Homo sapiens: one gene and its partners. The protein of the gene in region 3 purifies or fractionates together with the protein of the main gene of each other region. This does not show direct contact. Each region holds a gene or a part of one and is shown on either strand. Other genes may lie near its edges.

What was found.
Region 1: the proteins of SERPINB9 (region 3) and PPIAL4C purify together in Homo sapiens (affinity purification with mass spectrometry; one large-scale study listed by BioGRID and IntAct). This does not show direct contact.
Region 2: the proteins of SERPINB9 (region 3) and CASP10 purify together in Homo sapiens (affinity purification with western blotting, with the first as the bait; one study listed by BioGRID). This does not show direct contact.

The regions. Positions count from the first base shown.
Region 1 is NC_000001.11:149,582,288-149,585,188, reverse strand, and holds PPIAL4C (peptidyl-prolyl cis-trans isomerase A-like 4A/B/C), read right to left. Parts: upstream 1,342-2,901; 5' UTR 1,292-1,341; coding exon 797-1,291; 3' UTR 582-796; downstream 1-581. UniProt on the Homo sapiens protein: PPIases accelerate the folding of proteins. It catalyzes the cis-trans isomerization of proline imidic peptide bonds in oligopeptides.
Region 2 is NC_000002.12:201,217,533-201,221,191, reverse strand, and holds part of CASP10 (caspase-10 isoform 1 preproprotein), read right to left. Parts: intron 3,605-3,659; coding exon 3,451-3,604; 3' UTR 1-3,450. UniProt on the Homo sapiens protein: Involved in the activation cascade of caspases responsible for apoptosis execution. Recruited to both Fas- and TNFR-1 receptors in a FADD dependent manner. May participate in the granzyme B apoptotic pathways.
Region 3 is NC_000006.12:2,886,770-2,890,198, reverse strand, and holds the end of SERPINB9 (serpin B9), read left to right. Parts: coding exon 1-36; 3' UTR 37-2,929; downstream 2,930-3,429. UniProt on the Homo sapiens protein: Granzyme B inhibitor.

The DNA of each region.
Region 1 (2,901 bases), on a different chromosome or scaffold from region 3:
CTGTTTTAAAAAGAGGGATAAATGGAGAGGAAGGAAGGAAAGTTGTTAAGATACATAAGTATGCACAGGACAATACAAGAGAAACAATGTGTTTGGATGTCAAGGCTCTCCTTTCTGCAAGTGGCCAGCAGGTCACTATTGGCATCTATGGCCATGTGCCCTCAGCTAACACCTCTGCTAGTCAGGGTTTTGCCTTGTGAGATGACCAAATATTCATTCCTGACAGAGAAATGTCCTTGGTAATCTTTTTGTGTGAGCGTGCCATGGTCATTGTTAATTTCTTTCATTTAACAAAATAATAGACTTTATTTTTTGAGCAGTTTTAGCTTTATGGAAAGATCGAGCAGAAAGTACAGAGTTCTCACATACTGTCACCTTTATCCCACCCCCAGTTTACATTAGGGTTCACTCTTTGTGTGGTACAGGTCTAGGAGTTTTGCAAAACGCATAATGTCATGTACCCATCATTACATTATTACCAACGTATTTTCAATCCCCTAAAAATCGCCTGTTTCAGAACTATTTATCTCCCTACCCATCCCCAAACTCCTGGCAACCACTGAGCTTTTTTGTTGTTGTTGTTGTTACTTAGTTTTTATTTCATAATCATAAACTTAACTCAACTCTGCAATCCAGCTAGGCATGGAAGGGAACAAGGAAAACATGGAACCCAAAGGGAACTGCAGCAAGAGCACAGAGATTCTAGGATATTGCAAGCAAATGTGGTGGAGGGGTGCTCTCCTGAGCTACAGAAGGAATGGGTCTGGTGGTGAAAATAAAACACAAGTCAAACTCATTAGAATTGTCCACAGTCAGCAATGGTGATCTTCTTGCTGGTCTTGCTATTCCTGTACCCAAAGTGCTCCATGGCTTCCACAATATTCACACGTTCTTTCACCTTGCCAAAGGCCACATGCTTGCCATCCAACCACTCAGTCTTGGCAGTGCAGATGAAAAACTGGGAACCATTTGTGTTGGGTCCAGCATTTGCCATGGACAAGATGCCAGAACCTGTATGCTTTCGGATGAGGTTCTCATCATCAAATTTCTCCCCATAGATGGACTTGTCACCGGTGCCATTAGGGCGTGTGAAGTCACCACCCTGACACATAAACCCTGGAATAATTCTGTGAAAGCAGGAACCCTTATAACGAAATCCTTTCTCTCCAGTGCTCAGAGCACGAAAGTTTTCTGCTGTCTTTGGAATCTTGTCTGCAAACAGTTTGATGGAGATGCGGCCCAAGGGCTTGCCGTCGACGGTGATGTCAAAAAAGACGACGGAGTTGACCATGGCTGATAGTACAGGGCTCACAGCGATGGTGGCGTCTGCAAAGATAACCACTGATCTTTTTACTGTCTTTATAGTTTGGCCTTTTCCAGAATGTCGTATAGTTGAAATCACAGTATGTACCCTTTTCAGACTGGCTTCTTTCACTTAGCAAAATGTCTTTGTTTTTTCTGTATCTTTTTGTGGCTTGATAGTTTTTTCCTTTTAGCACTGAATAATATTCCACTGTAGGAATATACCACAGTTTGCTTATGCAGTCACTTATTGAAGGACATCTTGGTTGCTTCCAAGCTTTGGCAGTCTTCATTTCTTTCTTTCTTTCTTTCTTTCTTTCTTTCTTTCTTTCTTTCTTTCTTTCTTTCTTTCTTTCTTTTCTTTCTTTCTTTCTTTCTTTCTTTCTTTCTTTCTTTCTTTCTTTCTTTCTTTCTTTCTTCTTCTTTTTTTTTTTTTTGGAGACAGAGTTTTGCTCTGTCACCCAGGCTGGAGTGAAGTGGTACAATCTCAGCTCATTGCAACCTCCGCCTCCCAGGTTCAAGTGATTCTCTTCCTCAGCCTCTGGAGTAGCTGGGATTACAGGTGTGCACCACCACGCCTGGTTAGTCTTCAGGAATATTTACAGGACTGTATAGAATTAGGAGCCATCAAAGGGGATCCCTGAATTCTTTCTGTTTTTCTTACAAATACCAGTTTTAAGGTCAAGATTTACTACCCCATGCAACAGTGTAGCCGCATTTTAAATTTTAAATTTTTGACTGTTTGTTTAAAGGTCTCAGGCAACCTAAAAGGCTAGATAGAAGTCTCTCATCCTCTAACGAAGGATGGATTGTAAAATGGAATACTGCTAAGACTCTCCCTTTGGGTACTAATTCTGCAAAAACCTAGAATCTCAGAGACAAGAGACAAGTATTTGGAGTGGATCATTAGATGTAATGACAAAAGGAGTCACTTCAACATTCATAACAAATATCAAAGATTGTTGTATTTTTTATATGGGAGACACCAGACAAGCTTATACTTAGTTACTAGTTCAGAGGATACACCACCACATCCTCTAGCATGAGTACAATCTTATAAGCCATTGTCTCCAGCTGGCACTGTGATTGAGTCTTTAATAAAATATTCACCATTCTATAATAATAATAATTTTGGTTAGTGATAGGATAAATGGTGGACCAGGTGAGTCCAATGAATATCTACTCATTTGTTATACAACAAGTTCTTTTAATAGAAGGATGTAGAACAGGATATTATGGCAGTATATATAAGGCATTCAATGTACCCGTGGAGAGTGGCGATCAGAGAAAAATGATGTCAGGTAAAGCAAATGTAATTCAAGGATGAAGGTAGATTCCATTTACAAAATTCCTTGTTGCCTTTATCATAGAGGAGCTCCAATAAAATCAACAAGTCTGACAAAAGGTGACTGATTTATTCACCCAGGATATGTTATTGTGTGCTTAGCCTTGGACTTTGTTGCTTGTGTGTTGGACACCTAATAGTCTTGACAGCTAAATAGGCTTTTGTAAGCGAGAGTGGTAAAGTCCAACATGTTGCTAAACCTATGTGTATTCTCTACTGCTACCACCAATGTTGCTGTTTATTAGCCTTCTGAG
Region 2 (3,659 bases), on a different chromosome or scaffold from region 3:
TGTCAGGGGTAATGCTAGTGCTGAGTTGCCGCTAATAAAGTCAGCTGGAATTACGCACAAAGGAACTTAAGTCCTGCTATTTCTGTTGCAGTTACAACCGGAAGACCCTACCACCTAAAGGCATTTATATGCACCTCAGCACAGTTAGATTTAAATAGATGCACACATAGGACACATTCTTTTTCGTCTTCCCAACAGCTAATGTTTTCTCTACTTTACAGACAAGGCTGAAAAAAGCTAGCTTGATTTAGTTAGTGTCTCTGAGCAAAGGAATCAGGACAAAATGGAAATGCAGGGCTTTGATCTCCAGATCCTTTGCTCTTTCCTCAGTATCTCACCATCCTTCACTTGCCTTCACATGTCAGTTCTGCCAACTGGACAAGGACTGTGACCACTAGCTTTTGGCCCTGACTGTTATGAACACGGTTTTGGGAGATCATCCTGACACATGTGTAAGAATTAAAGAAAGAGGAAAGAAACATGAAAGGTGGCTTGACAGCCAAGGACAGGTTTATTTTAGAGAAAACAAATTTGAAAGGGGCTTCTGGCCGAGTTAGGTCAGAGCCCACTCACTTACAGACTAAGAGTTTTTAAGGATTTAGGGTGGGAGAGTTTATCAGAGGCTTGGATTGCTTCTATGTCTCTTTGCTGTGCTTATCTGGGAGGGAGAGTTGTGTGTCCGTTCCCATACAATATTTCTGCAGCTGTAGGTACACCCCACCCCCCTCCAGTCTGCTTTTAGCTTCCCCACTTAGTGCACCTGAAGGGAAAGGAATGTGCTTATTAAGGCTCATTGTTTTCCTGGAACCCATTGTATGAAGGCAAAGTTTGGCAGTTACCCAAGAGACTTCCCCCACCCCCCCACCTCCCTCTATGCCAGAGCTGTCTTATCTGTATTTTACTCTCTTCTCTTTCTGGCTGCTCGCTGTTAGAAAAGAAGTGATTTCCTTGAAATGCATGAGGCTAGAAAGGGAACTGGAACTTAAAGTGGCGGTGTTTGTCTAAGATGACGGTGTTCCTGCCCTGTCAATATAGATTAGACATTCCCTCTGTCAAGCTACATTCAAATCCACATGACAATCAGAGATATCAGAACAGTGTTCTTGTGAATATTCTTATAACAAATTTACTGTACATGAATTTGACTTTCACATAAATAATTATAAATGCAGGCACCACTGAGAGTTGTTGTTCTTCATTCCTTGACATTTTTTTATGAGCATTCACATATCAAATGAAACACTCCTAATGCCCTTCCACGCCCCAAGGCATTCCAGTTCACCTGGCTGAAGTCAAATCCAGTAAATGAGGACTGTGAGCAGGTTGTTCACATCCCCAGGCCTCAGCTGCCTCATCTATAAATGAAGGCGTTAACCACAGGACTTTGGATCTCCCTATGAGGGCTCACCTTTAAGGATTCAAAATACAGTTCCAGGAATTAACAGAGAAAAAGTTCCTCTAGAAATTGAAAAAAAAAAAAAAAAAAGCTCAAGTACGTAAAAATGCTCAAAATCTTAATGAAGAAAGCATCAAGGCGTCCTTACAGAGCCACTCCCTTCAGGCAAGCCAGACATCCCCTCTGCCAAGAAGAGCCCAGTGATCCTGAGAACAGCTTCAGTTTCTGACACAGCCTCTCTCCTCATGCCTTGGGCCAGAGGAGCAAAGTGTAGTAGCAGTAACAAGGTGGGGACTGTCCACTGCAGTCTACTGCATCTGCCAGCCCTGAGGACATCCGGCCAAGAGAAAGGTGCTGGCCTGTAGATTGAGTCCTGATTCAAGCTTTGCCTGAAGCCAGTGTTATCCACTCCTGGGTTTCAATGTGAAAGAGGCAATAAATTCCCTTCTTTGCTTCAGTCAATTTGAATTGGGTGTTCTGTCAATGGCAACTGAAATGTTCCAACCCCAATATTGAATTTTTTTTTTAAACAAGGTCTCGCCCTGTTGCCCAAGCTGGAGTGCAGTTGTGTCATCTTGGCTCACCACAGCCTCTGCCTCCTGGATTCAAGAGATTCTCCTGTCTCAGCCTCCCGAGTAGCTGGGATTACAGGTGCTCGCCGCCACACCTGGCTAATTTTTGTGTTTTTAGTAATGATGAGGTTTTGCCGTATTGGCCAGGCTGGTCTCGAACTCCTGACCTCAAGTGATCTGCCTGCCTTGGCTTCCCAGAGTACTGGGATTACAGGCATGAGTCACCGCACCCAGTCCAAAATGGAATATGACATCAGGTTGTAAAGTTTCTGCTTGCAGAGCAGCTGAGTGTAAATGAGCCATCATCTTCCTACAGGGAAACCTGTCTCTAACCAAATAAAAACTTCCTATGTGAGCACCTTCCTTACACAAAAGCAGGAAATGGGCCTGGCATAGACCAAATTTTCACCTCACTAGATGTGCAAAAGAGAAGTCTTAGGAAGGGGGAGATCAGAGAGAGGGTGGGTGGACTGTGACCTCACTGTCCAATGTTTAAGGGCATGCAGAGGGGACACAGAATTATAACTAAGGGGTAGTTGTCTAGAGAGGCAATCTAAGCTCAATCTAGGCTAAGAACGTGGTTTTTGAACACCAAGGAACCTTAAAATGCACCTGGTCCCCAGGCCAGGCACAGTATTTCATGCCTGTAGTCCCAGAACTTTGAGAAGCTGAGGTGGGAGGATCGCTTGAGCCCAGGAGTTTGAGACCAGCTTAGGCAACATAGTGAAACCCCATCTCCACAAAAAAAATAAAAAGTTAGCTGTGCATGGACACACACCTGTAGTCTCAGCTACTTGGGAGGCTGAGGTGGGAGGATCGCTTGAACCTGGGAGGTCAAGGCTGCAGTGAACAGTGATCCCACCACTGCACTCCAGCCCAGGTGACGGAGTGACTCTGTCTCAAAGAAAAAGTACCTGCACAAACCAAAGCCAATTACTCTGTCTTCAGAATAGACATCCAAAACCAAGGCTACAATCCAAGTCTTCAATAATGAAAGTTTTCTGGCCAGGTGTGGTGGCTCGTGCCTATAATCCCAGTATTTTGGGGACAGAGGTGGGAGGATCACTTGGGCCTAGGAGTTTGAAACCAGCCTGTGCAACAAAGTGAGATCCCTCCATCTCTACAAAAAATAAAGAATAAAAAAAATCCGGGCACGGTGGTACACACCTGTGGTCCCAGCTACTTGGGAAGCTGAGGCGGGAGGACAGCTTGAGCCTGGGAGGTCGAGACTACAGTGAGCCGTGATTGCCCCCCTGCACTCCAGTCTGGGTGACAGAATGAGACTATCTCCAAAAAAAAGAAAGTTTTCTAACATTTAGACTTGCAAAAGAAAAAGAAAATCAGAATTGACTGTGTCAGAAAACACGGTGTTTCCTGTTTCTAGAATGACAGGTGGAGACCACCGATTCCTGTGCTGGGCAGGAGGCTGGAGGTTATAGCCAATGATTCGTTTGAGGTCTAAGAACCAACAAAAACTCTCTGCTATAATGAAAGTGCATCCAGGGGCACAGGGAATACTAGTTTTTTCCTTAGTGTGAAAGCAGGCTGGGGCATCTGTTTCTTTGTTCCCTGTTTGTCCACTCTTCGACTCACATCATCGTTGACAGCAGTGAGGATGGATAAGATGTCTTCATGTCTGCAACAAAGAAGAAAACAAAATTTTTTTTTACGGAGTCTCACTCTGTCGCCCA
Region 3 (3,429 bases):
AGCATTCTGTTCTGTGGCAGGTTCTCATCGCCATAAAGGGTGCACTTACCGTGCACTCGGCCATTTCCCTCTTCCTGTGTCCCCAGATCCCCACTACAGCTCCAAGAGGATGGGCCTAGAAAGCCAAGTGCAAAGATGAGGGCAGATTCTTTACCTGTCTGCCCTCATGATTTGCCAGCATGAATTCATGATGCTCCACACTCGCTTATGCTACTTAATCAGAATCTTGAGAAAATAGACCATAATGATTCCCTGTTGTATTAAAATTGCAGTCCAAATCCCATAGGATGGCAAGCAAAGTTCTTCTAGAATTCCACATGCAATTCACTCTGGCGACCCTGTGCTTTCCTGACACTGCGAATACATTCCTTAACCCGCTGCCTCAGTGGTAATAAATGGTGCTAGATATTGCTACTATTTTATAGATTTCCTGGTGCTTAGCCTTATAAAAAAGGTTGTAAAATGTACATTTATATTTTATCTTTTTTTTTTTTTTTTTTCTGAGACGCAGTCTGGCTCTCTGTCGCCCAGGCTGGAGTGCAGTGGCTCGATCTCGGCTCACTGCAAGCTCCGCCTCCCGGGTTCACGCCATTCTCCTGCCTCAGCCTCCCGAGTAGCTGGGACTACAGGCGCCCGCCACCACGCCCGGCTAATTTTTTGTATTTTTAGTAGAGACGGGGTTTCACCGTGTTAGCCAGGATGGTGTCGATCTCCTGACCTCGTGATCCACCCGCCTCGGCCTCCCAAAGTGCTGGGATTACAGGCTTGAGCCACCGCGCCCGGCTATATTTTATCTTTTATCTTTTTCTTTGACATTTACCAATCACCAAGCATGCACCAAACACTGCTTTAGGCACTGGGGACACAAAGGGGACAGAGCCATCCTCCTTTGACACCTGGTCTTCAGTTCTGTGCCCAACGTATATAGTTTTGACAATGACCAGGTTGGACTGTTTAATGTCTTTCAACTTACCACGTAATCCTCTTGTAGGGATCACATCTTTCTTTATGATATTGTATTTCTCTACCTCTAACAGTAAAAATTCCATTCAACCCTTAAAGCTCACTTCAAATTCTTCTTTGAGAAGTTTTTCCTTTCTCCGCAACCAGATGTACATATTTGAACTCTCTTTGTACTTGGAGGGCACTTCTTTCGTGGTAGTTCTTTTATTTTTATTAATCTCTGTATCCTTAGATAGTCCTCCAACAACCAAAGGTTGGGACTCTGTCTTACATATCTGGGTGCCCCTCATAGTGCAGTAATAAGTAAGTTGATTATATACGAGCTATGTAACTTATATTTTTTAATGGTTGGATATCACTGAGTTTTTTTTTTTAAGAATTTTTTTATTGAGGTAAACTTCACATAACATAAAATTAACTATTTTAAAGTGAGAAGTTCAGTGCCACTTAGTATTGTTAACAATGTTGCATAACCACCACCTTTATTTAAAGTTCCAAAAAAAATGTTCTCCTCTAAAAGGAAACCCCATCCCATTAAGCAGATACTCTCCATTCCTTCCTTCCTCCAGCCCCCAGCAACCACCAATCTGCTTTCTGTCTCTATGGATTTATCTATTCTTGCTATTTTATATAAATTGAATTGTATGAGACCTTTTGTGTCTGGCTTCTTTCACTTAGTACAAGTTTTTGAGATTTATTTACATAGTAGCATGTATCAACACTTCATTTTTATGGCCAAATAAAATTGTATTATGTGTTTATAGCACAATTTATTTATCCACTCATTCATTGATGGACTTTGGGTTGTTTCTGACTTTTGGCTATTGGGAATAGTGCTGCTATGAATGTTTGTGTACCTGTATTTGTTTGAATGCCTATTTTGCATTCTCTTGGGTATATATCTAGGAGTGGAACTGCTGGGTCATATGTTAATTCTATGTTTAGCTTTTTGAGGAACAGACAAACTGTTTTCCACAGCAGTTGAACCATTCCACATTCCCACCAGCAATGTATGAGAATTCCAATTTCTGTCCACTTCCTCACCAACACTTATTATTTTCCTTTTCCTTTTTTTAAAAAAAATAAGTTATGGCCATCTTAGTGGGTGTGAAGTGGTATCTCATTGTGTTTTTTATTTGCATTTCCTATGTAATGAGCTAGAAACTAAAGTACAAACTAGATGGGACATCCAGTCCCTTTGATAGATAATGCTGAGTAAAAAATGAGATGAAAGACATTTGTTTGTTTTTAGAACACGAGTGACAGTTTGTTAAAAAGCTTTAGAGGAGGAATGAAAACAAAGTGAAGTACACTTAGAAAAGGGCCAAGTGGACATCTTGGATGTCAAGTGCCTAGTTCAGTATCTTTTTTTTTTTTTTTTTTTTTTTTGAGACAGTGCCTCACTCTGTCACCCAGGCTGGAGTGTAGTGGCATGATCTGGGCTCACTGCAACCTCCTCCTCCTGGATTCAAGCAATTCTCTTGCTTCAGCCTCCCAAGTAGCTGAGACTACAAGCACCCACCATCACACCCAGCTAATTTTGTATTTTTCAGTAGAGACGGGGTTTCGCCACATTGGCCGTGTTGGTCTTGAACTCCTGGCCTCAAGCGATCCGCCTACCTCAGCCTCCCAAAGTGCTAGGATTACAGGCATAAGCCACTGAGCCCAGCCCTAGTTCAGTATCTTTTATGTAAATTACAAACATCTGCAACATTATGTATCATATGCAGATACTTATTGCATTTCTTTTATTAGTGGTGAAAGTGTTCTATGCATTTATTGGCTCTTGAATTTCCTCATCTATGAATTGTCATTCATACACCTACTTTTCTGCTTCGTTTTTACATATGTCTTTGCCTATTAAAGATATTATCCCTCTGTTTTATATTTTCTCTCATTCTTGTATTGCCTTTTAAATTTTGTTATGATGTTTCATTAATAAACAGTGTTTTGTTTTCCTCTATAATCAAATCTAGATTTTCCCTTTGTGATTTCCGACACCACTTCCATTCTTAGAAGTACTTTTCCATTCATAAAGTAGTAAAATAAAATAGTTTTTTCTCTAAACTTTTATTTTTGTAATGATTTAACTAATTCACATGGAATTTGATTTTGTATTATTGACATTCAGGAGAAAGCATAATTTTATTTATTAGCCAATTTCTGGATATTGTAAATCTATTTTTCCATCTTTATTCTTCTGGTGAACTTTAGAATAATTTTTTAATACCCAAAGTAATTTTTTTAACTTTCAATTTTTTGGGAGGAAGGATTAGCATGACATTAAGCATATAAATTACTTGAGTAAATTGATGTATTTACAATGTTTAGTCATCTCATTAAGGAAAATGAGAAGAGTCTCCATTTATTCAAGCCCTTTTCTATACTACTTTTATTAAAACTTTTTTTTTGAGTTTTTTTCAATATAAGTCCTACATATCTTTTTTTTCTTGTTATGGCTATTTC